Linked DNA regions of Homo sapiens. Each later gene encodes a partner of the first gene's protein in a complex. Each region holds a gene or a part of one and is shown in the gene's direction. Other genes may lie near its edges. The genes, in order: NUP93, NUP205, NUP160 and NUP85.

Region 1 (7,701 bases):
GCTAATTTTTGTATTTTTAGTAGAGATGGGGTTTCAGCATGTTGGCCAGGATAGTCTCAATCTCTTGGCCACATGATACGCCCATCTGAGCCTCCCAAAGTGCTGGGATTACAGGCGTGAGCCACCGTGCCCAGCCAAATTTTTGTATTTTTAGTAGAGACAGGATTTCACCATATTGGCCAGGCTGGTCTCGAACTCCTGACCTCAAGTGATCCGCCTGCCTCAGCCTCCCAAAGTGCTGGGATTACAGGCATGAGCCACCGTGCCCAGCTGAACCTTACTTTAAAAAATGTTTTAATAGACATTTTTTTAGAGCAGTTTTAGGAGCACAGCAAAATTGAGCCAAAGGTACAGCGATTTTTCACATACCCCCTGCCTGTACACACGCCTAGCCTCTCCGATTACCAACATCCCCCACCAGAGTGGTACATTTCTTACAACTGATGAGCCCATTTGATGCATCATGATCACCCAGTCTGTAGTTTACATTAGGGTTTACTCTTGGTGTTGTACATTCTGTGGGTTCAAGCAAATTTGTAATGCCGTGTATCTAAAAGCCTCATCTTTTTAATAATTAAAGTTGACCATTGTCTTCACTGAACTTACACAGAAACAAAACCATGCAATATAATTCTGTATTCCTTGCCAAGTTACAATGTCATTGTGGAACAAAATGCAATGAACATGAAAATAAGACTTTCTCAGCTTCTTTGTAAATGGAACTGTTTAATATTATTTTGTTAATGGGTAGAATAAAATGTAATCTGATGGTGAAAACATTCTTCTTGACATTGTGGAAAATACCTCCCTATATTGCATGTGATGGAAAAGCAATTCGACTGGGAAAAGTTTACTGAATTAAGCTTACTGAATTCTGGCCTATTGACCTTATAATAAGCATGTTAGATGAGACGTTATAAGGGCTCAAGTAATACCTGCATCCTTCAGGATTATTTTGATTGCAAGTGATGTAAAACCTCAGTGAAATTGAGCAAAAAATAAAATTTTCTGGGTCATGCAACAAAACATTCCAGGGTTAGGGTTAGCTTTAGGCACAGCTTGATCCAGAAGCTGTGTCACAATGTCACTTGAGTACAGGCTCTCTCTCCATCACTACATGGCTCTCTTCTGTATTGTCTTCCTCCCCAGACAAATTCTTCCCTTGTGGACAATAAACAAACAGGCCGGGCATGGTGGCTCATGCCTGTAATCCCAGCACTTTGAGAGGCCAAGGAGGGCAGATCACTTGAAGTCAGGAGTTCCAGACCAGCCTGGCCAATATGGTGAAACCCCGTCTCTACTAAAAATACAAAAATTAGCTGGGTGTGGTGGCATACACCTGTAATCCAAGCAACTAGGGAGCCTGAGGCACAAGAATCACTTGAACCTGAGAGGCAGGGGTTACAATAAGCCAAGATTGTGCCACTGCACTCCAGCCTGGGCAACAGAGTGTAACTCTGTCTCAAAATAAACAAACAAACAAACAAACAAACAAAAATTTGAAAGGAATGATAATGCCTACAAAAACATCTTCACAGTTCTAATTTATTCCAGTCATAAAGATAAGTGTCTGAGCAGAACATCTTAAGAGTGCATTTTCTTGATCCTATTGGGTTCTAAACCAGTTCCTGAACCAGTCCCTGTGGCCAGGGTACTGCACTACTCTGCTCTGATTGGCGAGGCCTGAGTCACATGCCACCAATCAAAACACAGGGACTGAGATTTGGGGCAGGAACGCTCCACAGGGGAGTCCAAGTGTTAAAAGACGTCCCATTAGAGAGCAAATGTCTGGTAATACGGTATAGTGCGTTGAATACACATCCCATATACTCAATGAGTTCATCTGAAGACTAAGAATATTCAAAAGCACAATTCAACCAGACGAGAGTACAAAGGCCTGTGTTTGTTTGATATCATCATGCAGCCAAAAAAGGTAGAGTTATACACTTGGTATGTATAGAAGACATGCAAAATCTGTGTTACAATACAGGGTTCCATCAAATACTTCCTTTGAAAAACAGGATTCTGTTAAATAATGTTTGGGACCCAGTAGGACTAAATGAGGGAAGGTAAGGACTCTCCACCACCACCCAGCTCCCTTTTAAGTAGGAAAGAGCTTGAAAATCCCCACCTCTGAGAAAGGGGCCTTGCGGGGGCTCTGGGGCACATCTCAGAACAATTCTCAAGGCAAAGGCTCTTGAAAGATTCTGAGCTCAGATAAAGTGATGTTTAAGGAAGCTCTTCTGGCAAGGCATGAGCCAATGCACCCAGTTCTCTTAAAAACAAGAAAACAAAAAACAAACCAAAAAAACCAAATAATATATTGTTTATGCACAGATACATTTGTGATAAAACTATAAAACATTGGAATGATAAATATGAAATGTCAGATTGTGGTTATCTCTGGGGATAGGAAGGTATATGGGAAGACCATCTGGAAAACTGCAAGGTTTTTTAAGATGAGGTGTCACTCTGTTGCACAGGCTGGAGAGCAGTGGCACGACCAGGGCTCACTGCAGCCTTGACCACCTGGGCTCAGGTGATCCTCCCACCTCAGCCTCCCCAGTAGCTGGGACTACAGCTGCACACTACCATGCCCAGCCAATTTTTTTGTATTTTTTGTAGAGACAGGGTTTCACCATTTGCCCAGGCTGGTCTTGAACTCTGAGGCTCAAGCTACCCTCTTGCCTCAGCCTCCCAAAGTGCTGAGATTACAGGCGTGAACCACTGTGCCTGGCCACTTTTTCCATTTAACATTATGTTTCCAAGATTCATCCATGGTGTATCTGTGGCTGAAGCACACTCATTTTTCACTGCTGTGTAATGCTCCATTGCATAATATCCCACAATTTATTTATCCTTTTTTTTTTTTTTTGGTTAACAGATATTTGGCTTGTTTCAAGTTTTTTGCTAATATGAACTGTGCTGCTATGAAGATTCTTACTTATAACTCCTGGTGCATATGTGTAAGAGTTTCTCTAGGGCATATATCTAGGAGTTGAATTACTGGGTTTTACAATGTAGAAATATTCAGCTTTAAAAGGCAAGTGTCCGGAATTTTCATTTGGCAATATTGCACAAGCATTTGTCTATGTCATTAAAAGTGCTTTTTTTTTTTTTTTTTACATAAAGAAAAAGCAAAGTAAAAGTATAAAACATTATTCAGATGCAAGATACTATTATCTTTGTGGATATTCTCTGACCATAGCGGGGTCTGGTTACATATATAATAGCTTCAGGGCAAAGGCCACATTCATACATATTGTTAATCAGCACCAATTATTTATAGAGAACTCACAATATGCTGGTGTGAGGTATTAAAAATAAACAAAGCTGGACACTAGTTGCTATAGACTTCTTAATGTTTGTGTCCTCCCCCTTCAAATTTATATGTTGAAACTCTGCTCTCCATTGGGATGGTATTAAGAGGGGAGGACTTTGGTAGGTGATTGGGTCATGAGAGTGAAGCCCTCATGAATGGGATTAGAGCCCTAATAAAAGAAATATTGGAGAGCTCCCCTCACCCTTCTGTGTGTGGTTACAGGGAGAAGAGTGCTATATTAGTCCGTTCTCATGCTGCTGTGAAGAAATACCTGAAACCAGGTCATTTATAAAGAAACGAGGTTTAATTGACTCACAGTTCCGCATGGCTGGGGAGGCCTCAGGAAACTTATAATTATGGTGGAAGGCACATGTTCACAGGGCAGCAGGACAGGGAATGAGTGCAAGCAGGGGAAATGCCAGACGCTTATAAAACCACCAGATCTCATGAGACTTACTATCGTGAGAACAGCATGCCAGAAACTGCCCCCCATGATCTGGTTACCTCCACCTGGTCTCACCCTTGATATGTGGAGATTATGGGGATTATAATTCAAGGTGAGATTTGGGTGGGGACACAGAGCCAAACCATATCAAGTGCTATCTATGAATTAGGAGGCAGGCCCTCAGCAGACACTGAATCTGCGGGTGCTTTAATCTAAGGCTTCCCAGCCTCTAGAACTGTGAGAAAAAAATTTCTGTTGTGTATAAGCCATCCAGTCTATGGATGAGTCTGACCCCACTTGTCCCTACTCACCATCTTCCAGCCGCACACCCCTTCTTTCTAGTCTCCAAACACTAAGCTGGCTTCCCCTGGAGACTTCACTCTTGTTCCCTCTGCCTGGAATTCTTTGAAGCCAGAACTTTGCAAGCCCCATCCTTTCTCATCCTTCTTTATTCAGCTCAAGATGTCGCCATCTCAGAAAGGCCTCCCTTCAACATCCAAGCATTCTCTCTCCCATCACCCTGTTTTTTCTTCATAGCTCTTCTTGCAAAGTGCAGTTATTTATTACATTTTTGTTTCCCCTGCCAACCTGGGAACTCAATGAGGGCAGCGATCTTGTCTGACGTGGTCGCCACGGTGTTGCCAGTTCCTAGACTAAGGCCTGGCCCTTGGATGGCGCTCAAGAAGGAGTAAGAAATTCCTTTAACTTAGGGAATTCTGGAATCGCTTTCTCCCGGCAGAGCCGACTCTAACCAAGTGGGAAAGGCGAGGTCCGTGGCTGCCTGTGGCCCAGGGGTGACGGTTTGGCCCAAGGCCCCACCTCCGCCCCGCCCCCGGCCCCGCCCCTGTTCTTGTCCTCCCCCACGGGTCTCCATAAAGTTCATTTGGCGTCGCACCGCGCGAGGGCTTCTGGGAGCGGCCAGCCTTGGCCAATCAGGAAGCGGGGGAGAGCGGCGCGAGAAGCGGCGGCCGCGTCCTCAAGCCGGCACCTGAGCGGCGGAGACGGCTGTAGCACAAGGTAAGGGTGTGTCTGGTCGCGTCCTTGCGACCCTGGGCTTGTCCTTGAACCCAGGACCCCGTGACTGGGTGGAGCGCCGTCCCCACGCTCGGAACCCCGCCGCTCATACTTCCCGTTCTCCTCATGGCAGCCGGGCACGCCTGACGCCGGCGACACAACGCCTTGTCGAGCCGCCCCCGAGGCTTGGAGTCGGGCTGCATCCCTGGGGGTGCCTTTCATTCGTCCACTTTCTGAATGCAGAACCTAGGCCTCCCGACTCCCCCTTCCCCACTGTGGTGCCCTCGCGCCACGCCCCTGCCCTCACCTCCACCTCGTGCCCCGCGAGCCCACCCTGCCTAAGCCTGCGCCACAACGCCCCGCCTGCTTACCTTCCTGACCGTGCCCTGCCTGCTTGCCTACCCCTCGTGGACACACCCTGTAGGGAGGCGTTGCTCTGCGAGGGAAGGGGTCTTTGGGGCGAGGGGAACTTATCCCAACCCTTGGCTTACCTTTTGTACATCCAGGAGGATGCTGGTGATTGGAACCCAGGGGTGGCCCACCCTTCTCTGTGCTTACTCCATCCCGTTCCCTGCAGAGGCGATGCCCAAGTTCACTGGGTTTCTTTTGAAAAAATTATGGGGCCGACCCCATGGGTCCTTGGTGAAAGTATGAAAGACACGTTGACAGAGCCTCTGGTCTGGATTTGCCCTTCTGCCAGACGTGGGAAGGAGGTTTTATTTATTTAATTTTTATTTTGACCGAGTTGTCTTTCAGCAAAAGCGAGGGTCACCTTTTTGTATTCTTTCCAGGGTATGTGGGAGGGTATCCTCGGTCATCCTAGCTTTTCTTCTTTATTTTTTTTTCTTTAAATTCTCCTTTGTGCATTTGTGTTTGCAATATTTTTATTTTCATTGATGGTGATTTCATAGCATTAAATACATACATATCAGAGGCTAACAGATTCCGTATTTATATCTCCATCGCAGGTCTCACCCCTGACTTTTATCCAGCCACCCACTTAATATCTCCACTGAGATGGGTTATAGGCAACTCAAATTAAACATGCCAAGAGAGGGCTAGCAAGCTCCCCTTCATTACTCTCCCCAAACTGCTCCTGTTGCCTCTTTTTTCTCATCTCAATAATAGGAAAGACCTTGGCTAATAACTTTTGAGCCATCGTTGACTGCTGTCTTTCTTTTTCTTTTCTTTCCTTTTTTTTTTTTTCTTTTGAGACAGTCTCCCTCGGTCGCTCAGTCTGGAGTGCAGTGGTGCGATCTCGTGTCATCGTGTGACTGCAACCTCTGCCTCCCAGGCTCAAGTGATTCTCCTACTTCGGCCTCCCAAGTAGCTGGGATTACAGGCGTGTACCACCTCACCTGGCTAATTTTTGTATTTTTAGTAGAGACGGGATTTCACCATGTTGGCCAGGCTGGTCTTGAACTCCTGGCCTCAAGTGATCCGCCCATTTCGGCCTCCCACAAAAGTGTTGGAATTACAGGTGTGGGCCACCACACCCAGTCTTCTGTTTTTCACGCCACAAATAATACTTGCCACCCTGGGCCAGGTCACCACCTCTGGTTTGGATTATTGAAATAGTTTCCCATTTGGTCTTCCTGCTTCTGTCCTGGCCCCTGTTTTTTGCACAGCAGCTAGAGGGATCTTTTTAAAACACAGGCTGTCAGATCGTATCATTCCTTTACTTAAAAGAAAAAAAAAACCCTCCAATGGGTCCCCATCTCATTAATAATGATAGACAAACCCCTTTACAGTGAGCTATAAGGCTTTACATAATCTGACCCACTGTTACTTTCCCAGTCTCATTTTCTGCTCCCTCCCTTTCCAAACGTCAGACATGCTTTAGCCTCAGGGCATTTGTGCTTGCAAGTTAATATCCATGTAGTTTGCACTCACTTCTTCCAGGTCTTCACTAGGGAGGCACCTAGTGAGGCTTTCCCCATTTCCCGCCTCCCTTCATTGCTTTAGTTGTTCTTAGCACTTATATTTCACGTATTTTTCTTGTGTATTGTTGTCTTCCCCCTGTAGAATGTGAGTGAGGGGATTTTTATCTGTTTTGTTCACTGATGTGTTCCTAGCACCTAGGTCTGGCACACAGTAGGTGCTCAAAAAATATGAACTAGATGAATGTTACTGGCACTCTTGCAGGCATGGGGATGCAGTGGTGAATGAGACAGGCCTGCCCTCATTGAACTGATAAGCCTGTGGAGGGTACCACTAGCAATAAAAGCACAGATAGGAAGTGTGATGTCAGGGCTGTTTCTTAAAGGAGGACAGGGATATTTGAATAGAGACCTGCTTGAAATGAATGAGCAGGTCATGGGACTATCTGAGAGCATTGCTGGTAGTGGGTAGAGCAGGTGCAAAGACCGTGCAGTGTGAACAGCTGGAGATGTGGTGAGCCTGAGGGTCTGAACCAGCCTCTTCATAGACTGATGTAGAAAATAAGGTTGACAGAAAGATGGATGTGCCAAGGAGGGGGACAGGTTGGAGCAAAGATCCGAAGGTGAGAGGGCCCACTCCTCATGAAAAAGTTTATTTAAAGAATATGGAGTTAGAGGGAAGATCTTTCACTGGTGTGTTCAGGGAACAGGTCACTTTAATTCAACAAATATGTATCTGATCCTGTTATGTGCCAGACTTAATGCTGAGGACTCAGAGTTGAGCATCTGTGGACCTTACCCTATAGGAAATTTGCCACTAGAGAGGGAGACATATGTGTGATGAAATAATCACAACTGCTGCACTAGGGAAGAACAGTATAGAAGATTCAGAGTAGTGTGGGAGGGGTTGGCATAGGTGGGACTTTCCCAGCTGGCTGCAGCATACATAGGAGTTCCCCATGTGACAAGATAGGGTTGGGGATGTGTTATAGAGAGTGTGTACTTAGCATGTACAGGAGTATGAAGGGAGGAAACAGGCA
Region 2 (7,027 bases), on another chromosome or scaffold:
TTTTTGACCTAAGCCTGCACTAAAAGAAGTATGATATTGAGAATGAGGGGGATGTTCACTAGACATGCTTGAGTTTTGAGTTTAACTCGGAACTTTCATTTAACAAACATTTCTTCTATACCTACCATGTGCCAGGCATGGTGTTAATTATATCACTCCAGTGATATAAAGATGAATAAAATCTCAACTAGTGTAAATACGCTCATATTCTAATAATTGAGAATGATGTGGAAACAAATATTTTGACACAATTAAGTACAATTAATGCAGTTTTGTGCAAGATTTAGAGATGGTCCAGAGATTTAGAGATGGTATTAGATGGACCTTGATTGTACAGAGAACTCTTAACAACATCATGAAGTTTAAGGTAGATGTTGCAAAATGAGTAAGCATACATCAGGTGGAATAGGTGGTTATTTGGGAGGATGAAGGGCATCCAGGCAGAAGAAATTGCCTGTGCAAGAGGGTGAAGCAAGGTGATGAATTTGGGGAACAGAAAGGAGTAGAGTGGAGGAGTAGTTGCAGTAAGGGGAAAAGAAAGCTTTAGGAAATGAAACTGAAACTATAGGCAAAGTACTCTTAAAAAAAAAGTGAAACTTAGCCAGGCGTGGTGGCTCACACCTGTAATCCCACCACTTTGGGAGGCCAAGGCAGGTGGATCACGAGGTCAGGAGTTCAAGACCAGCGTGGTCAACATGGTGAAATGCCATCGCTACTAAAAATACAAAAATTAGCTGGGTGCTATGGCAAGTGCCTGTAATCCTAACTACTCAGGAGGCTAAGGCAGGAGAATTGCTTGAACCTAGGCGGCAGAGGTTGCAGTGAGATCACGCCACTGCACTCCAGCCTAGGTGACAGAGTGAGACTCCATCTCAAAAAAAAAGGTAGAACTCATTCAAAGGAGAGTAGTTAAAAGGTGACTGAACTTGAATTATAAAAAGGTTGTTTATTCAGAGAAGATTCCGAGGGAAGAAACTTAGAAATATTTGAAAGATTCCATATGAGATAGTAAAATGGGCATTGAATAAAATTAAATTTAGTGGACAACAGTGAGACCAAAAGATTCTCACCCAGTATGTAGAAATCACAGGTAAGTGTGAGAGTTAGAAATTGAGAGTTTGGAAAATGGTGAATTCCATGTCCCTGCTGGTGTTTAGGGATAAGTTGGATGGCCCTCGAATATGTTGAGCAAGAAGTTAGACAGTGGATGGATGTTTGTAGTAGAGGACCCCAGGGCCCCTTAAGCCCTGAGCTACTGTGATTCTTTGAACTGAACATTGTTATATTGATTTTTGTCTCCTCCTAAACACATACGTGTTTATTAACAATATTATTTCTCAACTTCCTTTTTTAGGAGAGCATCAACAGCCACATTTTCCTGGCCTTACCAGAGGATTAGTAGCTGTTCTTCTGTACTGGGATGGAAAGCGATGCATTGCGAATTCCTTGAAAGCCTTGATACAGTCTAGACGGGGAAAGACATGGACCCTAGAACTCAGGTCTTTTTACTTCTTGGGATTTCAGGGGTTAATTTGAAATTACTTGAAGTATGACAATATTTCCCTTATTATATACAATCTGAGCAATATGTAACATAAGCTGAGTAATATACTCCCTTATTCTGCCAAGACAGATATAACAATTTAAACCTGTTTTATTGTGTTTATAAATAAAAAATAATTTGGACCGAGGTGCAGTGGCCCAAATTATTTTTGGATTACAAAGTGCTGGGATTACAGATTACAGTCTTGAGCTCAGGAGTTTTAGATCAGCCTGGGCAACATGATGAAATCCCATCTCTACAAAAAATAGAATAATTAACTGGGCATGATGGCATGCACCTGCAGTCCCAGCTACCTGGGAGGCTGAGGTGGGAGAAAGACCTGAGCCTGGGACGTCAAGGCTGCAGTGAGCCATGATCACGCCACTGCACTCCAGCCTGGGTGACAGAGCAAGGCCCTGTCTCAAAAAAAGAGCGTTTGCTATACCTATTATTATGAAGAAGCATAAACAATATTGTTTAACGTAGTTTATTGATTTCTTTTCATTACAGTCCAGAGCTGGCTTCCATGACAACACGCTTTACAGATGAGCTGATGGAGCAAGGATTGACTTATAAAGTTCTTACGCTGGTGTCACAGATTGATGTGAATAATGAGTTTGAGAAACTACAGCGAGAGAGAGGTTTGGGCAGTGAAAAACATCGCAAAGAGGCAAGGGTTCAATGAAATCAATTCATGAGTTGTCTGTCAAATCTCAGAGGCAGAAACATGACAATTAGAATGTTCATTTTTTCAAGATGAATTATGTAGCTGATACCATGCCTGATTGCCACTTTTCTTTTTTTTTGCTTTTATTATTTTTCATTGACACAAAACTGTACATATGTATAGGGTACAGTGTGGTATTTTGATACATATGTATGATATGTAATAAATCATAATTAGCATATCCATCACCTCAAACGTTTATTATTTCTTTGTGTTGGGAACATTCAAAATTCACTGTACTACTGTTTGACAGTACAGTATACAATAAATTGTTAATTGTAGTCAGCTCGTAATGTATATTAAAGTTTGTAGTCAGCTGTGTCCATAAAATTGACTTGCAGTTGTTTCAGCTTCGGTATAGTCATTTATGTGCCATTCTAGCTCTTTTTATGAAATGAACAAGAAATTGGTCATCCCAATTTCTTAAGGAACTTAAGGATAAGGAATAAACAATAGGGTTTGTTCAGAATTCCAGAGGTGACGTCTTAGGATCACTTGTGGATTTTGATAGGTTTTTTTATTAGCCTTTGTAAAAGGTAGTTTGTACTTTGGAATAAGACCAGGCTTCACTGTAATTTATTTATACTGATAGTCATGTTTTTATTTCTAGGTTTCTGATCTCATTAAGGAGTGCAGGCAGTCTCTTGCAGAAAGCCTTTTTGCCTGGGCTTGCCAGTCACCTTTAGGCAAAGAAGACACTCTCCTCCTCATTGGACATTTGGAAAGAGTGACAGTTGAGGCTAATGGCTCACTGGATGCAGTGAATCTGGCTCTTCTTATGGCGCTTCTATACTGTTTTGATATCAGTTTTATAGAGCAAAGCACAGAGGAACGAGATGGTATTGAGTTTTATACATTTTCCTACATTAAAAAAATCAGATTTAAAATTGTGGGGATAACATTTAAAAAGGGTGATATTTTAGCTACTAAAATAGTCTGCTCTGTTCCTGTGTTTGCAGTCCGTTCATATTTGAATATTTATATATAAGATCACATTTAAAAAACAGCTGCAGTCCTGTTAATTATTTCTGTTTTTTGGGGGGATTTGGAATGGAAAGTATTAAAGCATATATTATACATGTTCATGATTGCACATGCCTAATTTACTTAATTGCTTGTTTCTTTACCATTCATTTACATTTTCAAACTTTTTATTAAAACATTCTGAGACAGTGACTGTCATTTCAGTAATGTAATCTTTGATCTGTGTTTTCTGTGAAGTAAATAAAATTTTTGTGATCTTTAGATAGCATGATTTCTATTTTAGAATTTATGTGCAGAAAAAATGAGTGTCTAACTTTTTTCTTGTTTATTTGTAGTACACTTATAAAAATGACTGAAAATAGTGAAATTGAAATTTAGGATTATTGTCATTTTCTTTTTTTGTTTTTAGTATGTGTACAATCAACAGTAGTGTACCTTTTGGGATGTAGAAATTAATGTTAATTGGTCATTATTCTTCTGTGAGAATGCTCAGATTTTCTGACTTTTGGATATTATTCCTGTGTATCAGAAGTGAGAATTTATCTGGTGATCGGTAAAGTGGTCTATTTTTGTGTTTTCAGATATGATTCATCAACTTCCACTGTTGACAGAAAAACAGTACATTGCAACAATTCACTCTCGTCTTCAGGACTCACAGCTTTGGAAACTGCCTGGGCTCCAAGCCACTGTTAGACTTGCCTGGGCGCTGGCATTGAGGGGAATATCCCAGCTACCTGATGTGACAGGTGAATTGATTGTAGGTAATTTTGTTATGAGAAACAGCATGTTAGCACTTAATGACATTTTTGGAAGGAGTATTATCTTTGACATACATAAGCATAAGCATAGGAAGATATCCAGAGTTGTATTAAATGAAACCTTTAGTGTAGTAGTGAAATACAGACTTTTTTCTCCTTGTCTCTCAAAAATATCATATGAAATACTATTTCCCATTCTTGGAGCCACTGACAATGCTCTTTTACCTTCAGGGTATGAGTTTAAAATTTGGAATGACAGTGTCACATTAATTTTTTTTTTTTTTGAGATGGAGTTTTGCTCTTGTTGCCCAGGCTGGAGTGCAATGGCACAGTCTCGGCTCACTGCAACCTCTGCCCCCCGGGTTCAAGCGATTCTCCTGCCTCAGCCTCCCAAGTAGCTGGGATTACAGGCATGCGCCACCACACCTGGCTAATTGTGTATTTTTAGTAGAAATGGGGTTTCTCCATGTTGGTCAGGCTGGTCTTGAACTCCCGACCTCAGGTGATCCGACTGCCTTGGCCTCCCAAAGTGCTGGGATTGCAACACGTGAGCCACCCCGTCCGGCCTTAAATGTTTTTTAAAATTAAAATATACTATTCCTTTTATTTTTATATATTTTACTTCTTGATTTGTTCACAAACTAGTTTTTCACATTGTGTCAAATTAAAAACAGTTATTTTTCCATACAGTGTATTAAAAAGGAGATATTTGGATCAGTCAAGAACAGATGTGGAATCCCGACTTTTCTTTTTTGTGGCCCAGGCTGGAGTGCAGTGGCTCGATCCCGGCTCACTGCAACCTCCACCTACTGGGTTCAAGTGATTCTCCTGCCTCAGCTTCTTAAGTAATTGGACTACAGGCACACGCCACCACACCCGGCTAATCTTTTGTATTTTTAGTAGAAACAGGGTTTCACCATGTTGGCTGGGCTGGTCTCGAACTCCTGAGCTCAGGTGATCCACTTGCTTTGGCCTCCCAGAGTGTTGGGTTTACAGGTGTGAGCCACCGCGCCTGACCAGAATACTGACTTTTAACAACCTGTTAACTCACTGTAGCATATATTATTCTGCTATTTACATTTACATTATTTAATTGTCATATTAGTAGGGGTTTATTCTAACAGAATGAGAACCATACATGGAACACGAAGCCCAAAGAATTGTCTTTTTATGGTAAATCTAGAAAGGCTTTATTCAAGTTTACAATTTATGTCAGTTTTCTAATCCTAAAGTATCAACAGATTCTAGTATCTTATCAATCGTGTAATTCCAGAACATTTTGTTTTCACTAGTGTCATGCTGTTCCCAAGGTGTTTGCAGAAAGCTTTTTTTGTGTTAGGAGTCTTTCTTTGGCCAGTTAATTTCTATCTGTCTGTCATCTATATATCTAAATGCTGATAGCGAATTAGACTTTTACATTCCCGTACAAATTCTGTTTCTCACCTGTACGTACCCTCATCATTTATAAGTCTTATTTCACTACTTTTCTGACATAAAGTTACCCTTTAACCTTTGAAGTGGCTATGTGATAGTTAATATCTTCTTTTTTTATTTTGGAGATGGAGTCTCGTTCTGTTGCCCAGACTGGAATGCAGTGGCATGATCTCAGGTCACTGCAACCTCTGCCTCCTGGGTTCAAGCAATTCTGCCTCAGCCTCCGGAGTACCTGGGACTATAGTCGCACGCCGCCACACCCAGCTAAGTTTTTGTATTTTAGTAGAGACAGGGTTTCACCGGGTTGCCTAGGCTGGTCTCGAACTCCGGAGCTCAGGCAATCTGCCTGCCTTGGCCTCCCAAAGTGCTGGGATTACAGGCGCGAGCCACCATGCCCAGGTGTGATAGTTAATATATTAACTATATAATATAGTTATACATAGATAGTTATTATAATATTATGTAATATGGTCACAATCTTATGCTATAATTGCCCATACCACTGCACTAGTTTTGAAAGGTTTAATAGAATATGCTATAGTTTGCTGTAGAATAATAGTAAAAATAGGTTAGGAATCACAGCCCTAGTTTCAAGTCCCAGATCTTTGGCTACTTAATCTCTTTGATTTTATATGCTCATATCCTTTTATAAGCTTTAATAGTTAGGGGTATTATAATTAGAATTTTTAAACTATAAAAATTTTTCTGTTAATTTGCATTTTAAAAATTGTTAGAAAAAATGACTAGCTTGTGTTATTTTGCAGAAATGGTCACTTCTTGAAATAATCCAGACAAGTTTTAACGAAGATCTCCAATTTGAAAAATTGGTTTCTGTTCTCTTCATAGACTTCTGAAACTTTTATCAAATGTTTTTATTATATTATTCTATAAAAGGCATGAAGCCAGGTGCAGTGCCTCATGCCTATAATCCCAGCATTTTGGGAGGCCAAGGTGGGAGGATTGCTTGAGCCCAGGAGTTCATGACAAACCTGGGCAATGTAGTGATACCTCATCTCTTCAAAAAATTAAAAATTAGCCCAGTGTGGTGACATGCCCTTGGCTGTAGTCCCAGCTACGCAGGAGGCTGAGGCAGGAGGATCACTTGAGCCCAGGAGAGAGGCTGTAGTGAGCTGAAATTGCTCCACTGCACTCCAGCCTGGGTGACAGAGTGAGATCACATCTCAAAAAAAATTAAAAAAACAAGCATCGGCCGGGTGTGGTGACTCACGCCTGTAATCCCAGCACTTTGGGAGGATGAGGCAGGTGGATCGCTTGAGGTCAGGAGTTCAAGACCAGACTGGCGAACGTGGTAAAAGCCCATCTCCACTAAAAACACAAAAAATTAGCCAAGCATGGTGGCGCGTGCCTGTAATCCCAGCTGCTTGGGAGACTGAGGCAGGAGAATTGCTTGAACCTAGTGGGCAGAGGTTGCAGTGAGCTGAGATCATGCCACTGCACTTTAGCCTGGGTGACAGAGTGAAACTCTGTTTCCAAAAAAAAAAAATCAACAAAAAAACCAAGCATTTTTGTAATTTCACTAAGCTTTACAGAATTTTAGCATACTGTTTTTAGGCATTGAAA
Region 3 (7,687 bases), on another chromosome or scaffold:
TCTGTCTCAAAATTAATTAATTAATTAATTTAATTTAATAAAAATAAAAATAGCAATCATGTATTTAGCTCATTAATATGCAATTTGGACAGGGCTCAGTGGTCATGACTCATCTGTGCTCTACAAAATATCTGGGACCTGGGGACTTACCAGGCATCTCTCACTTCAAGTAGAATTAGAGTCTCTGTGTGTGGTCTCTCCCTGCAATCTGCCTAGGATGGCCCCGGCGTAGCCAAATTTCTTACATGGCAGCTTGCTTCCCCTATAGCCAGTCTTCAAAGAGAGATGTAGACTCTCTTAAGCTAGGCTGGCACAGCATCACTTTTGCTGTATTATATTCCTTATAGCAGTTACAGAACCCTCCAGATTTAAGGGGAGGGGACAAAGAAGGCTACACTTCTGGATGGGAACAATGTCAAAGAATTTGTGGCCATCTTTCTTTTGCCATATGGATATATGAGATTTGGGTGTTGGGATTAAAAGAGAAAAGTCCAGGGTAATTACTAGATTTCTAGACTGGGCCACAGTGGTGATGTCCACACAGATATAGACTACATGTGAGAGTATATAGTGAGACTATATAGAGAGGGGTAACATTTTGGATATGTTGAATTTGAGATGTCCATGGGAAATCCAAGGGGCATCAAGGAGGCAACTGAATATAAAAGGCTGAGAACTCGGCAAAAGAGGTCTGACCTCTAGATATGAAAGTGGAAATAATCAGTCTTCGGAATAGTTCTCTCTACTGTGGCACATCAGTGTCATGAGCAGTTATAACTTAGATAACCAGGAATTTGTAAATAATAACAGTTGAAGTGTGGCCAGGCGCGGTGACTCACACCTGTAATCCCAGCACTTTGTGAGGCCGAGGCAGGCAGATCATGAGGTCAGGAGATTGAGACCATCCTGGCTAACACTGTGAAACCTCATCTCTACTAAACATACAAAAAAAATAAGCCAGGCGTAGTGGCAAGCACCTGTAATCCCAGCTACTCAGGAGGCTGAGCAACTGGAACAGTGCTGGTAACTGCGATGGGGAAAGTAAGTGTGGGGAGAGAGGTTAGGACTTCAGTTTCAGACATGTTACATCTAAGATACAAAATAGGCCGTTGAATATATAAACCTGGACTTCGGGGGAGAAGCTTAGACTGGAGGTATACATTTGGGGATGATCGGCATATAACAATGCAGTATTTAAAGCCAGAAGACTGGGTGAGATTCTCAGGGGAGTGTTTGTAGATGGAAAGGACCAAGAACTGAACTCTGGACACTCCAACATCAAGAGGTTGGGGAAAAGAGGAGCATCTAGGAAAGGAGTCTGAAAAGGAACAGTTAGTGAAATAGGTAGAATCAAGAGAGTGGCGTCCTTGATGCCACATGAAGAATGTGTTTCCACGAGGAAGGAGCAAGCAATTGGTCAAATTCTACAAGTAGTCAAATAAGCTTAGAAATAACAGTTCAGGCCAGGTGCTGTGGCTCACGCCTGTAATCCCAGCACTTTGGGAGGCAGAGGTAGGAGGATCGCTTGAGGCCTGGAGTTTGAGACCAGCCTGGGCAACATAGGAAGACCTTGTCTCTACAAAAAATAAAAAATAAAAAATTTGGCAGGGCATGGTGGCACAAGCCTGTGGCCCCAGCTACTCGAGAGGCTGAGGCAGGAGGATCACCTCAGCCCAGGAGTTTGAGGCTGCAATGAGCTGGGATCACATCACTGCACCCCAGCCTGGATAACAGAGCAAGATTATGTGTCAGAAAAAAGAAATAGCAGTTTAGTATTAGACAGATAATGTGGATGCCATTGATAACCCGGAAAAAAGCAGTTTCAGCAAGGCAGTAGAAGCAAAAGCCTGAAAAACATGGATTTAATGAGGCCAGATGCAGTGGCTCACGCCTGTAATCCCAGCACTTTGGGAGGCCGAGGCAAGTGGATCACTTGAGGTAAGGAGTTCGAGACCAGCCTGACCAACATGGTGAAACCCTGTCTCTACTAAAAATACAAAAAACATTACCCAGGCAGGGCAGCGCATGCCTGTAATCACAGCTACTTGGGAGGCTGAGGCAGGAGAATCTCTTGAACCCAGGAGGCGGAGGTTGCAGTGAGCCGAGATTGTGCCATTGCACTCCAGCCTGGCCAACAATAGCGAAACTCCATCTCAATAAAATATATATATATATATATATATATATATATATATATATATATATATATATATGAGAATGAGAGAGAAGGAATTAAAACACTCTTGAGTTTTGCTGTGGGTGAGAGGAGAAGAGATATGGAGTAGTAGCTGCAGAGAGTGGAGGTCGAGGGAATGTTTGTATGCTTAGTACATACAGTACTAAGAGAAAAGGGGAAAAGACTGAAAATGGAAATAATTGAATTGCTAGAATGATGTCCTTGAGCAGGTGTTCTAAGGAAGTAGAAAGGTTGTCTCTGCATAAGCTCAGAGACAGTTTATAGTAACAGGAAGGGAAGGCAAAATATGTGGTTACAGATGCTGGTAGGTGGGGAGATGTCATTATAGAGGAAGTCCTCCCTTCCTCCTTCCTTCTTTCCAGATGGGTGTCTTTCTGGCCATGCTGGAGCACAGTGGCAGGATTGTAGCTCACTGTATCCTCCAACTCCTGGGCTCAAGAAACCTCCTATAGCTGGGACTACAGAGGCACACAACTATGCCTGGCTAGTTTTTTAAAAATTTTTATTAGAGATGGGGGTATGTTGCCCAGGCTTGTCTTGAACTCCTGGCCTCAAGCCATCCTTCCATCTCAGCCTCTGCTTTAATTTTCTAAATGAAGAAGCAAGCTGAGAGTCAGGATGACAAAGGAGGCAATGGAGGTTATAGGAGTTATGAAATATTCATTTAGAACAGTAAATGGAGAAGGCAAATACAATGTGTTTGCTGGGCAGCATTATGGGCCCACTCAAGGTACATGGTCCTGATGGAGTTACAGGGAGGCATGTCAGTATGGGTGTATAGTTTTCTGTTTTCTTTCTTTTCTTTTTTTGAGACGGAGTTTCGCTCTTGTTGCCCAGGCTGGAGTGCAACGGCGAGATCTTGGCTCACTGTAACCTCCACCTTCCGGGTTCAAGCGATTCTCCTGCCTCAGCTTCCCAAGTAGCCGGGATTACATGAGCGCACCATCATGCCCAGCTAATTTTTCTTTTTTTCTTTCTTCTTTTTTTTTTTTTTTTTGAGACAGTCTCGCTTTGTCACCCAGGCTGGAGTGCAGTGGCGCGATCTTGGCTCGCTGCAACCTCCACCTCCCAGGTTCAAGCGATTCTCCTGCCTCAGCCTCCCGAGTAGCTGGGATTACAGGCGTGCACCACCATGCCCGGCTAATTTTTTGTATCTTTAATAGAGACAGGGTTTCACCATGTTGGCCAGGTTGGTCTGAAACTCCTTACCTCGTGATCCACCCACCTCTGCCTCCCAGAGCGCTGGGATTACAGGCGTGAGCCACCGCGCCCGGCTAATTTTTCTATTTTTGGTAGAGACCGGGTTTCACCATGTTGGCCAGGCTGGTCTCGGACTCCTGACCTCAAGTGATCCTCACGCCTTGGCCTCCCAAAATGCTGGGAGCCACGCCCGACCCGGGTGTATAGTTTTCTCCAGTCATGTTCAGCTACAGATTTGAATGTAGTCGAAGTTGTAGTTTTTACCGATGAAGAGTTAGGCAATGAAGTAATTTAATGGTATTCAGGATAAGAAAGAAACACCAAAGAAGTGTGGGACAGTGAAGATTTTGTAGAACAATGGATTCCAGGTAGAATGAGGGGACTGCACTGCCAAAGTTGGTGTCCCAGAGGGAGTGAAGTGGAAAGATAGAAAATGATGGTCGGAACCAGATAAATGAAACGGAGAATGACAGGGAATGGTTGTGGTCACTGGTAATAGAAGTGCTTTAACTTCTATTGGCTATCACTAAGGAACAAAACCTTCCCCGCTGGAGATTAGCATTTTCCTCGATTTTGAACATCTACTCCCACAATATCTTCTAAACACCCACTATGGGCCCTTACTGCATTGACAGCCAAGTGCAAGATCACGGGTGGAAGGAATGGCAAATTCCTTTCACGTATCCAAGTGAGTAGCACTCAGGTAACCTCAGCAAGTGGCAGCACCAAGGTTTACCACATTACGTTTCATTATACAGGAATACACGAATACAGTCTCTTGGGGAGGGGAAAGACCAAAACCAAAGGCCTTTCCCTCACTACCCCTTCCTCACCCCGCCATCCCAAGTGTCGCCACTGAAGAGCGAAGGGAGGATCGCCAAAGATTTACAGACGGACACCCTAACCGAGGGAGAGGTGACCATAAACCCGGGATCCGGCAGAGGACGCCGAAAGGCCGGGACTCCCCGGACCTCGCCCCTCCTGGTCGACTGAGCCCCGCGTTTTAGAAACAGAAACAAACCCGGCCCCGCCCCCTGCCCTGCGGCCGCTGAGAAAAGAGCACCGCCCTCCGGAGGCGTTCCAGCCGGCCACTGGAAGGTTCCCGCAGATAGAGTCTGCCTCCCCTGCCCCCTTCTCTTCTGGATTCCTCGCTGCCCACCCTCATTCTCCCGGTGGAAGCCTCGCAACGAAGGGCCGGAGCCGCCTTTCTGCTCCCGGAATGCTTCACCTGTCCGCAGCTCCGCCCGCCCCACCCCCGGAAGTGACGGCGACCGCGCGGCCCTGCCTTTGTTCCGTTGGGCGTCGCGGCGACGGCGGGAAGATGGCGGCGGCGGGAGCCCTGGAACGGAGCTTCGTGGAGCTAAGCGGAGCTGAGCGCGAAAGGCCGAGGCACTTTCGGGAATTCACAGTCTGCAGCATTGGTACGGAAATGGCCAGGGAGGGTGCGATCCCATCTGTCCCCTCGGGCTCCTCTCATGGGTCCCAGGGTCCCTGACGCCCTGTTTCATCCTCCTGAGTCCACATGCCTCTAGCCCCGGGATCAGAGATTCCTTGATGTCCGACGTTTTCCTCTTTTCTTTGTATGGGTTGTCAGTCTGTCACTCTCTGCTTTGTCAGCTCCCTTAGTCCCTGTCATTTCTCAGAAGACGCGTGTGCAGGCTGACCACGTTCATTTTGCAGGGACTGCAAATGCCGTGGCTGGCGCCGTAAAATACAGTGAAAGCGCGGGAGGCTTTTACTACGTGGAGAGTGGCAAGTTGTTCTCCGTAACCAGAAACAGGTTCATTCATTGGTAAGTGTTGTGGTTCGCCAAACTCCCCTGGAAGGTAGGGTTTGGTGTATAAATTTTCGTCGCTGTACCCAAAGTGCTATTCTAGAAGCGGTAATTGACACTTAGGGAAAGAGAAAGATTGTTTTTTCAGTTCGTATCAGAATCGGGAAAACTGAGACACAGAGTTCTAGAAGAGATACCTCTCCCCCTCCCCCCCCCCACCCCCACACACACATACACCAAGCAACACCAGAAGCAGAGGAAATGTAGCTTAGGGGAATAAAGCCCATAAGACCAATTTTAAACATGAACCCGTTATGTTTTTATAGTGCTTTACAGCTTCCTTCATTGTACAAATACGTTCGAGCTTCAATATGTCAGGCATTGTGCTAGGTACCAGGACGAAATGAACAAAACTGCAATTTTCATCATGCAAGACGTTGTAGCAATGTCAGAATAGATGTAGACCCACTTTTCATGGGGAAATTTTTTGGAGGAAAACTTGCCCTAGAGGAAAAATATACGGGTTATGAGAGGCTAATAAGAGGACCAAATATAATTAGTGGGGCAGGGAAAGGCTTTAAGGAATTCACAGTTACCCTGAGATCTAAAGGACACGAGGTTAGCCAGGCATGGGGAGTGGACAGAGAGGAGTCCAGCAAGTAGGATCACCATATGCAAAGGTCATGAAGTGGAAAGAATGTGGCGGGTTTGGAACTGACCAAAGATCTGTGTGGCTTAAGTGCAGTGGGTAAAACAGAAAGTGATGTGAGATACTGAGGCTGGAGAGGTAGGCAGGACTCGGACCATGAGGGACCCTTAGGCCATTTTTAAGGATTTTTGGATTTTATCCTAAGTACATTGAGTAATAATTGAAAGATTTTTAAAGAGTTACTAACATCAAAATTGCATTTTTGGATGGGAACAGTTAACACTAGGGATTCCAAAAGGAGGGAGGGAGGGGAGCAAAGGTTGGAAAACCTATCGGATACTGTGTTCACAACTTGGGCGGCAGGATCATCAGAAGCCCAAACCTCATGTATATAGGAATATACACACAATATACTCATGTAACAAACCTGCACATGTACCCCTGAATCTAAATTTTTTTAAATGTATTTTTAGAAGATCTCAGTCTACTTTGTGGAAAGTGGATTTGGATTAGATGGGTATAATACAAAAAAAATTTTGCTTTTATCATGGCCCAAGTAAGGGTTGCTGGTGGCTCAATTGTGGGAATGACTAGAAATAGAAAAGTAGATGGATTCAAGATACCTTTGGAAGATAGATTCACTAGGGCTTGGTGGTGGATTGAATATGGGGTAAGGGATGGTAAAAGAAGAGAGAACAAGGACAGCTCCCTGGTGTCTCATGTGACTAACCAGATGTGAGTGGGGAGGGGTTGCCATTTACAGAGATACCCGGAAGATGGATTTTGGATAGATATGAATAATTCTATTGGACATAGTAAATTTGAAGTACCTGGGGAGCAGCCCTTTGGAAATGTCAAGTAGGCATTGAAGTTTACAGGTCTAAGGCTCAAAAGAGTGACTTTATGTTAGAGATACAAATTTCATTTAATTAAATATTTTGGCTGGGCACAGTGGCTCACACCTGTAATCCCAGCACTTTGGGGGGCTGAGGTGGGAGGATCTCTTGAGGCCGGGAGTTCAAGACCCCATTTCTACAAAAAAAATTTTTTTTTCTTTCTGCTTTTTTTTTTTTTTCTTTTTGAGAGACAGTCTGGCTCCATTGTCCAGGCTGGAGTGCATTGGTGCAATTATGGCTTACTGCAGTCTCCGCCTCCTGGGTTCAAGTGACCCTCCCACCTCAGCCTCCCAAGTAGCTGGAATTACAAGTATGCACCACCATGCCCAGCTAATTTTTCTATTTGTTTTTGTAGAGATGGGGTTTTGCCTTGTTGTCCAGACTGGTCTTGAACTGCCAGACTCAAGCAGTGCCCCGTTCTCGGCCTCCCAACTTGCTAGGATTACAGGCGTAAGCCACCGTGTCCAGCCTGATTTTTTAAAATAAGCCAGGCGGAGTAGCGTGTGCCTTTCATCTTAACTACTCAGGAGGCTGAGGTGGGAGGATCCGATCATGCCACTGCACTCCAGGTGGGAAAAAGGGTAAGACCCCATCTCTTTTAAGAAAACAGGAAGAAAGAAAGAAAATTTGCTTGCCTAATGTATTTCAGTCCGTTTTTAGGGAACAGGGATATAGCAGGGAACAAAACAAAGTCCCTACTCTTATGGAGGAAGATAGGCAACAACAACAATAACCAAAAAACCCCAAGTACATGCAGTTTTGTTACAGGAAAAGGGTGCCGATCCAGACCCCAAGGGAGGGTTCTTGGATCTCGCACAAGAAAGAATTCAGGGCAAGTCCGCAGTGCATAGTGAAAGCAAGTTTATTAAGAAAGTAAAGGAAGCCAGGCATGGTGGCTCACACCTGTAATCCCAGTACTTTAGGAGGCCGAGGCAGGTGGATCACCTGAGGTCAGGAGTTCGAGACCAGCC
Region 4 (7,583 bases), on another chromosome or scaffold:
TGCCTCAGCCTCCTGAGTAGCTGGGACTATAGGTGTGCGCCACCACGCCTGGCTAATTTTTGTAGTTTTCATAGAGACTGGGTTTCTCCACGTTGGTCAGGCTGGTCTTGAACTCCCGATCTCAGGTGATCTGTCCGCCTCAGCCTCCCAAAGTGCTGGGATTACAGGTGTGAGCCACCGTGCCTGGCATTTTTTTTTTTTTTTGAAATGGAGTCGTGCTCTGCCGCCCAGGCTGGAGTGCAGTGGCATGATCTCAGCTCACTGCAACCTTTGCCTCCCGGGTTCAAGCGATTCTCCTGCCTCAGCCTCCTGAGTAGCTGGGACTACAGGCATGGGTCACCATGCCTGGCTATTTTTTGTATTTTTAGTAGAGACAGGGTTTCACCATATTGGTCACGCTGGTCTTGAACTCCTTACCTCAGGTGATCTGCCAGCCTTGGCTTCCCAAAGTGCTGGGATTACAAGCATGAGCCACCGTGCCCAGCCCCAAATAACCTTTTAATAAGAATTCTGCATAAAAATTATTTGTGAGGCACTTCTTTTATTCATTTAAATCTCCTTTTTGGTGCTTATATAAAACACATCTCTCTTGATTATTTCTTGGAAGTGTAATTATGAGGACAAAAAGATGAACATTTTCAAACTTTTTGAAATAATTTTTCATGTCCTGTCAGTCTTCATAGTTATTTTAAACAGGTGAGTAAAGTAACATCTCACTGATATAATTTATTTAGCTAACTTCTACGGTTGAACATATATACCAGCAGCTCTTAACAGAGGTGATTTTGCCCCCTAGAGGACACTGGGAATATATGCAGATATTTTCAGTTTTCACAATTGTGGGATGTTATTGGCATCTAGTGGGTAAAGGTCAGAAGTTGGAGTTCTTGTTCTTGGTGGGGTGTTGTTTTGTTTTGTTTTGTTTTGTTTTTTTGAGTTGGAGTTTTGCTCTTGTTGCCCAGGCTGGAGTGCAATGACGTGATCTCATCTCACCACAACCTCTGCCTCCTGGGTTCAAGCGATTCTCTTGCCTCAGTCTCCCTAGTAGCTGGGATTACAGGCGGATGCCATGAAGCCCAGCTGATTTTTGTATTTTTAGTAGAGACTGTGTTTCACCATGTTGGTCCAGGCTGGTTTCGAACTCCTGACCTCAGGTGATCTGCCCACCTCAGCCTCCCAAACTACTGGGATTACAGGTGTGAGCCACCGCACCCAGCCTGTTTTTTTGTTTTTGTTTTTTTTTTTTCTTTCTGAGACGGAGTCTCCCTCTGTCACCCAGGCTGGAATGCAATGGCATGGTTTTGGCTCACTGCAACCTCCGCCTCCCGGGTTCAAGTGATTCTCCTGCCTCAGCCTCCGGAGTAGCTGGGATTACGGGTGCCTGCCACCATGCCTAATTTTTGTAGTTTTAGTAGAGACGGGGTTTCACCATATTGGCCAGGCTGGTCTCGAACTGCTGACCTCGTGATCCGCCCACCTCGGCCTCCCAAAGTGCTGGGATAACAGGCGTGAGCCACTGCGCCTGGCCATATTGTTGCTTTTGAAACAGGGTCTTGCTGGAGTATAGTGCTATAACAATCGTAGTTCACTGCAGCCTTGACTTGAACTCCTGGGCTCAAGAAATCCTCTGGCCTCAGTCTCCTTCCTCTTGCTGTAGCTAGGGCTACAGGTATGTGCCACTAGTTCCAGCTAGAGTTTTTTTTTTTTTTTTTTTTTTTTTTTTTTTTTTTTTTTTTGAGAGGGAGTCTTACACTGTCGTCCGGGCTGGAGTGCAGTGGTATGATCTTGGCTCACTGCAACCTCCGCCTCCAGGGTTCAAACGATTCTCCTGCCTCAGCCTCAGTAGCTGGGACTACAGGCGCACAACCGCCATGACCAAATAATTTTTTGTATTTTAGTGGAGACGGGGTTTCATCTTGTTGCCCAGGCTGGTCTTGAACTCCTGAGCTCAGGTAATCCGCCCGCCTCGGCCTCCCGAAGTGTTGGGATTATAGGCGTGAGCCACCGCGCCCGGCCTTTTTTTATTTTTTATTTTTTGAGACAGCATCTTGCTCTTGCCCTGTTGCCCAGGCTGAGGCCAGAGATTTTGTTAAATAATGTACACTGTGCCCGGTTCAGGAGCATTAGTTTTATTAGGCTGCATGAAATGTATCCACTTAAGACTTTACCAGGCTGGGTGCGGTGGCTCATGCCTGTAACCCTAGCACTTTGGGAGTCTGAGGCGGGTGGATCACCTGAGGTCAGGCGTTCGAGTCCAGCCTGACCAATATGGCGAAACCCCGTCTCTACTAAAAAATAAAAAATTAGCCCGGCGTAGTGGCGTGTGCCTGTAGTCCCAGCTGCTCGGGAGGCTTAGGCAGCAGAATCGCTTGAACCCGGGAGACGGAGGTTGCAGTAAGCCGAGATCGTGCCACTCCACTCCAGCCTGGCGACAGAGCAAGACTCTGTCTCAAAAAGACAAAAAAAAAAAAAAAAAAAAAAAGACAAAGAAAAAAAAAAGAGAGAGAGAGCTTGTTAGATCTTAGTGCTATATTTCCTTGATTATTTTTATTTTAAGGCTGACAAAATGCCATTTAAGATAATAAAAGTAGTTAAATTGCCTGACCAAGAGCTAGATAACATTGAGGAAAAAGTATTGGCAATATTCTTTGGTCTAATACTGCTATATACCAACCATTTTACCCAATCATTCAAATAGGCTTAGTAATACAAGGGCGAAAAAGGAAAACTACAGCTAATAGTGCTATCCTTGTTCTTTTTTTTTTTTGAGACGGAGTCTCGCTCTGTCGCCCAGGCTGGAGTGCAGCGGTGCAATCTCGGTTCACTGCAAGCTCCGCCTCCCCGGTTCACGCCATTCTCCTGTCTCAGCCTCCCGAGGAGCTGGGACTACAGGCACCCGCCACCACGCCCGGCTGATTTTTTTTTTTTTTTTTTTTTTTTTTTGTATTTTTAGTAGAGATGGGGTTTCACCGTGTTAGCCAGGATGGTCTCTCTCTCCTGACCTGGTGATCCACCCGCCTCGGCCTCCCAAAGCGCTGAGATTACAGGCGTGAGCCACCGCGCCCGGCCTATCCTTGTTCTATATACTGATTACGCATACTATATATGGACCTTTTCCTTCCTCAACCTTTCTATAGATTTCTAAGAATAAGGTTTTGATGAAGTAGTTTATGTATCCTTCTTTTTCAGTTAATCCTAATGGAAAACGGTTGGAAAAATGAAACAATTATCTTACAACTTATTTTTCTCTTTCCTCTCCTCCCCTCTCTCTAAAAGAGTGTGGCTCCTTCCCCTCTCTTTTCCCCTTCCTCTCTCTAGAGTGGTTAACTCTCAAACTGTATTTAACTCTGGAAAAGTTTTCAATTACACAGGCGATAACTCCAACTTGAGGTATAACGGAAACTTATTAAGAGAAAAAGAGCAAAATAATTTTTTTTTGAGACTCAGCAAAATAATTTTTTTTTTTTTGAGACGGAGTCTCCGTCTGTCGCCCAGGATGGAGTGCAGTGGCGCGATCTTGGCTCACTGCAACCTCCGCCTCCCGGGTTGGAACAATTCTCCTGCCTCAGCCTTACGAGTAGCTGGGATTACAGGTGTCCGCCACCACTCCCGGCTAATTTTTGTATTTTCAGTAGAGACGGGGTTTCGCCATGTTGTCCAGGCTGGTCTTGAACTCCTGACCTCAGGTGATCCAACCACCTCGGCGTCCCGGAGTGCTGGGATTACAGGCGCGCGCTACCAAGCACAGCTAATTTTTTTTTTTTTTTTTGAGACGGAGTCTCGCTCTGTCTCCCAGGCTGGAGTGCAGTGGTGCGATCTTGGCTCAATGCAACCTCCACCTCCCGGGTTGGAACAATTCTCTTGCCTCAGCCTTCCGAGTAGCTGGAATTACAGGTGTCCGCCACCACGCCCGTCTAATTTTTTATATTTTTAGTAGAGACGAGGTTTCATCATATTGGCCAGACTGGTCTTGAACTCCTGAACTCCAGTGATCCACCCACCTTGGGCTGCCAAAGTGTTGGGATTAGAGGCTTGAGCCACAGCGCCGGGCCTTCAGGGGTATCGATTTTGTTCCCGTGCCTCTTGTGTGTGTTCTAGTGTGGAAGTGGAGGCGATTGCTTTCCAGCACAAGCCCGTTTGACTGTCGGGGTTTGGACAAGTGGCTGCGACGACACTAAGGTGGAGACCGGGATGTAGCGAGGACTCCCAGAGTTGGGAGACGTTGTACGCTTACTGGGACCTAAATCCCGCACGAGTTCCCACCCAAGTGCCGCCGCCCCAGCCTACGCACGCGCATTCGCACCGTCTCCAGCCCCGGGGTCCTCCTGCCCCTCCCGCCGTCTCCGGGGGCCTTTTCTCCGCTCGGCACCAGGGTGTCCCCGGCGCCGCCTGATCCTGTTAGCGCGGTACTCTGAGTGCAGTCAGTCCTCGGCGCTGTTTTCCCTGATTTGCTGTCGACGCCAGGAAGGAAGGACGCGTGCAGAGGACCGCAGAGGGGTGGCCGTGGCTGAGAGGAGACAGCGCCGCAGCACTGAGGGTTTGGGCTTGCAGGCGCTGCAGGAGACGCCCAGGCGGAGTCTTGTCTCGCAGCCAGCTCTGAGCGGGAGGCCTGAGCGGGAAGCATTGGCGTCCGAGCGACTTCTAGGAGCCTGGGGTTCGGCGCTATGGAGGAGCTCGATGGCGAGCCAACAGTCACTGTAAGGGTACCCCGAACAGGCTTGCTCGTCCTTGCGGGTTGAGAACTGCGTCTGCTTAGTTACTTCAGGCTTGTCTGCTTCCCTAGTGGTCGCGAGGCGCTCGTCCCCTTCCCTCGACTCAGTTGCCACTTTTCCGGAGGTCGCAGTGTTAACGAGGTGCCCGCCCTAGGGTCGCAGTGGTCGCGGGGTTTCTGCCACCAGTCACAAACCCCGGCCTCGAAGGTCCCACTCCGTCCCTTTCCTTCCTTTGTGTTCCTGGCCTTTTTACTTCCCTTGCTTTTCCTCTTGGGCATTAGAGTGGGTTCAGCCCAAGCAGAGGAATTTATATTTTTATTCCAGCCGTATTAAGCTCTGCATCGCGGCACATTGAGCTTCTGCCTGTGTGGCCTAAGGTTTATTCAACGTATTATCTCAGGAGACTATTCCTGTTTTATCGCTGTGCATTCAATTCCATTTGAACTTTGAAGACAGTATGTCAACTGTGGATGATCTGTGATGTGTATAAAAAAAATTCACGCGCTTTATGTACGAGATACCTACCGTTTCTGCTAGTTGGATTGCTCTTGTTTTCCCTCTTGTTAACCAGAAGTGACTGAGGCAGGTCTCAACCGATAAAGGTTTAATTAGCTAAGGTTGAGGATCCAACCGGGAAAAAGCACAGGTCACAGGAGGATCTGAGACCTGTGCTTTTTCCAAAGATGGTTTTGGGAACATCACTAGTTAAAGAGGAAGGAGCTAGCAGGAGGGGCAAAAAAGGGAGGTTAGGCAGTGAGGAGGCAAATGATTACATTCTTGTGAGTCGGTGATTAGCCTCAGTAAATCTGCATTTTACCTGTGAAAAGAGGGAGCAGAGGAAAATTTTATGTATGCATTCATCTCAGGGTAGGTAGAGGGATTATGGTTATTATTACTGTTATTTTTTAGACGGAGTCTCGCTCTGTCTCCCAGGCTGGAGTGCAGTGGCGCGGTCTCGGCTCACTGTAACCTCCGCCTCCCGGGTTCACACCATTCTCCTGCCTCAGCCTCCTGAGTAGCTGGGACTACAGGTGCCCGCCACCACGCCCGGCTAATTTTTTGTACTTTTTTGTATTTTTAGTAGAGACGGGGTTTCACCGTGTTGGCCAGGATGGTCTCAATCTCCTGACCTCGTGATCCGCCCACCTCGGCCTCCCAAAGTGCTGGGATTACAGGCGTGAGCCACCGCACCCGGCCGATTTCTGGTCTTTTACTTGTGAAGATAAGCTGGTAGTTGACATTGTCAGAATCAACAGATCTTGATTTTAGGACTAGTTTATAGGGGCGATGTGTATCCTGAAAATTTTAGAGGCTCACAAGGAATTTCCTTGTGAGCAATTTGTGAGGGAAGCTCTCTGGGGAGATATGTGGCCTTCTTTTTTTTTTCTCTTGAGGCGGAGTTTCCCTCTTGTCGCCCAGGCTAGAGTGCAGTGGTGCGGTCTCGGCTCTCTGCAACCTCCGCCTCCCAGGTTCAAGCAATTCTCCTGCCTCAGCCTCCTGAGTAGCTGGGATTGCAGGCATGTGCCACCATGCCCGGCTAATTTTGTATTTTTTTAGTAGAGACGAGGTTTCTCCATGTTGGTCAGGCTGGTCTGGAACTCCTGACCTCAGGTGATCTGCCGGCCTCAGTCTCCCAAAGTGCTGGGATTACAAGTGTGAGCCACTGCGCCTGGCCTCATTCTTTTTTTGAGACGGATTCTCACTCTGTCACCCAGAGTGGAGTGCAGTGGCGTGATCTCAGCTCACTGCAACCTCTGGCTCCTGGGTTCAAGCGATTCTTCTGCCTCAGTCTCCTGAGTAGCTGAGATTACAGGTGCGTGCCACCACACCCAGCTAATTTTTGTATTTTTGGTAGAGATGGGGTTTCACCATCTTGGTCAGGCTGGTCTCCAAAGCCTGACCTCGTGATCAGCCTGCCTCGGCCTCCCAAAGTGCTGGGATTACAGGCATGAGCCACCGCGCTTGGCTAGGAGTTCGAGATCAACCTGGCCAACATGGTGAAACCCCATCTCTACTAAAAAAATACAAAAATTAGCCTGGTTTGGTGGCGCGTGCCTGTAATCCCACCTACTCAAGAAGCTGAGGCAGGAGAATCACTTGAACCCAGCAGGCAGAGGTTGCAGTGAGTCGAGATTGCGTCACTGCAGTCCAGCCTGGGCAACAAGAGTTCGAACTCCTGACCTCAGATGATCTGCCCGCCTTAGCCTCCCAAAGTGCTGGCAGGAGCCACCCCGCTGCCGGCCCAAAATGAATTTTTCTTACCAGTGTTATAAGGAAATGTTATTGAAGGATACAGTGTTATTAGAGGACCAGCTGTGCTCTTCACTTAAAGTGTTTTTCAGCAGGGCGGGCACGGTGGCTCGCGCCTGTAGTCCTAGCACTTTGGGAGGCTGAGGCGGACGGATCACCTGAACTCAGGAGTTTGTGACCAGCCTGGGCAATATGGTGAAACTCTATCTCTACTAAAAATGAAAAAAAAAAAAAAAATAGCCGGGTGTGGTTGCACACACCTGTAGTCCCAGCTACTCAGGAGGTTGAGGCAGGAGAAGCCTTTGAACCCAGGAGGCGGCGATTGGAGCAAGCTGAGATTACACCACTGTACACCAGCCTGTTAGAGTGAGTCTTTGTCTCAAAAAAAAAAAAAAAAAAAAAAGAATGGAACAACTTCAGTAAGAAGAACATTTTTCATTTTAGATTTCTATGCCTTATTTTACTAGTTGATTCCAGGCGTGAATTCCAAGAAGAACCAAATGTATTTTGACTGGGGTCCAGGGGAGATGCTGGTATGTGAAACCTCCTTCAACAAAAAAGGTAGGGTTTTTTTTCTTCCAAATTATCCATCTTGGCACATTTGGTTGTTTTTCTGTTTAT

The links.
Region 2: NUP93 (region 1) and NUP205 share a complex: the UniProt entries of both Homo sapiens proteins name them as parts of the nuclear pore complex.
Region 3: NUP93 (region 1) and NUP160 share a complex: the UniProt entries of both Homo sapiens proteins name them as parts of the nuclear pore complex.
Region 4: NUP93 (region 1) and NUP85 share a complex: the UniProt entries of both Homo sapiens proteins name them as parts of the nuclear pore complex.

The regions. Positions count from the first base shown.
Region 1 is NC_000016.10:56,725,428-56,733,128, forward strand, and holds the start of NUP93 (nuclear pore complex protein Nup93), read left to right. Parts: upstream 1-4,701; 5' UTR 4,702-4,784; intron 4,785-7,701. UniProt on the Homo sapiens protein: Plays a role in the nuclear pore complex (NPC) assembly and/or maintenance. May anchor nucleoporins, but not NUP153 and TPR, to the NPC. During renal development, regulates podocyte migration and proliferation through SMAD4 signaling.
Region 2 is NC_000007.14:135,574,916-135,581,942, forward strand, and holds part of NUP205 (nuclear pore complex protein Nup205), read left to right. Parts: intron 1-1,354; coding exon 1,355-1,499; intron 1,500-2,053; coding exon 2,054-2,213; intron 2,214-2,880; coding exon 2,881-3,109; intron 3,110-3,835; coding exon 3,836-4,000; exon of another isoform or gene 4,001-4,011; intron 4,012-7,027. UniProt on the Homo sapiens protein: Plays a role in the nuclear pore complex (NPC) assembly and/or maintenance. May anchor NUP62 and other nucleoporins, but not NUP153 and TPR, to the NPC.
Region 3 is NC_000011.10:47,845,350-47,853,036, reverse strand, and holds the start of NUP160 (nuclear pore complex protein Nup160), read left to right. Parts: upstream 1-4,718; coding exon 4,719-4,818; intron 4,819-5,077; coding exon 5,078-5,189; intron 5,190-7,687. UniProt on the Homo sapiens protein: Functions as a component of the nuclear pore complex (NPC). Involved in poly(A)+ RNA transport.
Region 4 is NC_000017.11:75,201,098-75,208,680, forward strand, and holds the start of NUP85 (nuclear pore complex protein Nup85), read left to right. Parts: upstream 1-4,581; 5' UTR 4,582-4,664; coding exon 4,665-4,697; intron 4,698-7,429; coding exon 7,430-7,523; intron 7,524-7,583. UniProt on the Homo sapiens protein: Essential component of the nuclear pore complex (NPC) that seems to be required for NPC assembly and maintenance. As part of the NPC Nup107-160 subcomplex plays a role in RNA export and in tethering NUP96/Nup98 and NUP153 to the nucleus.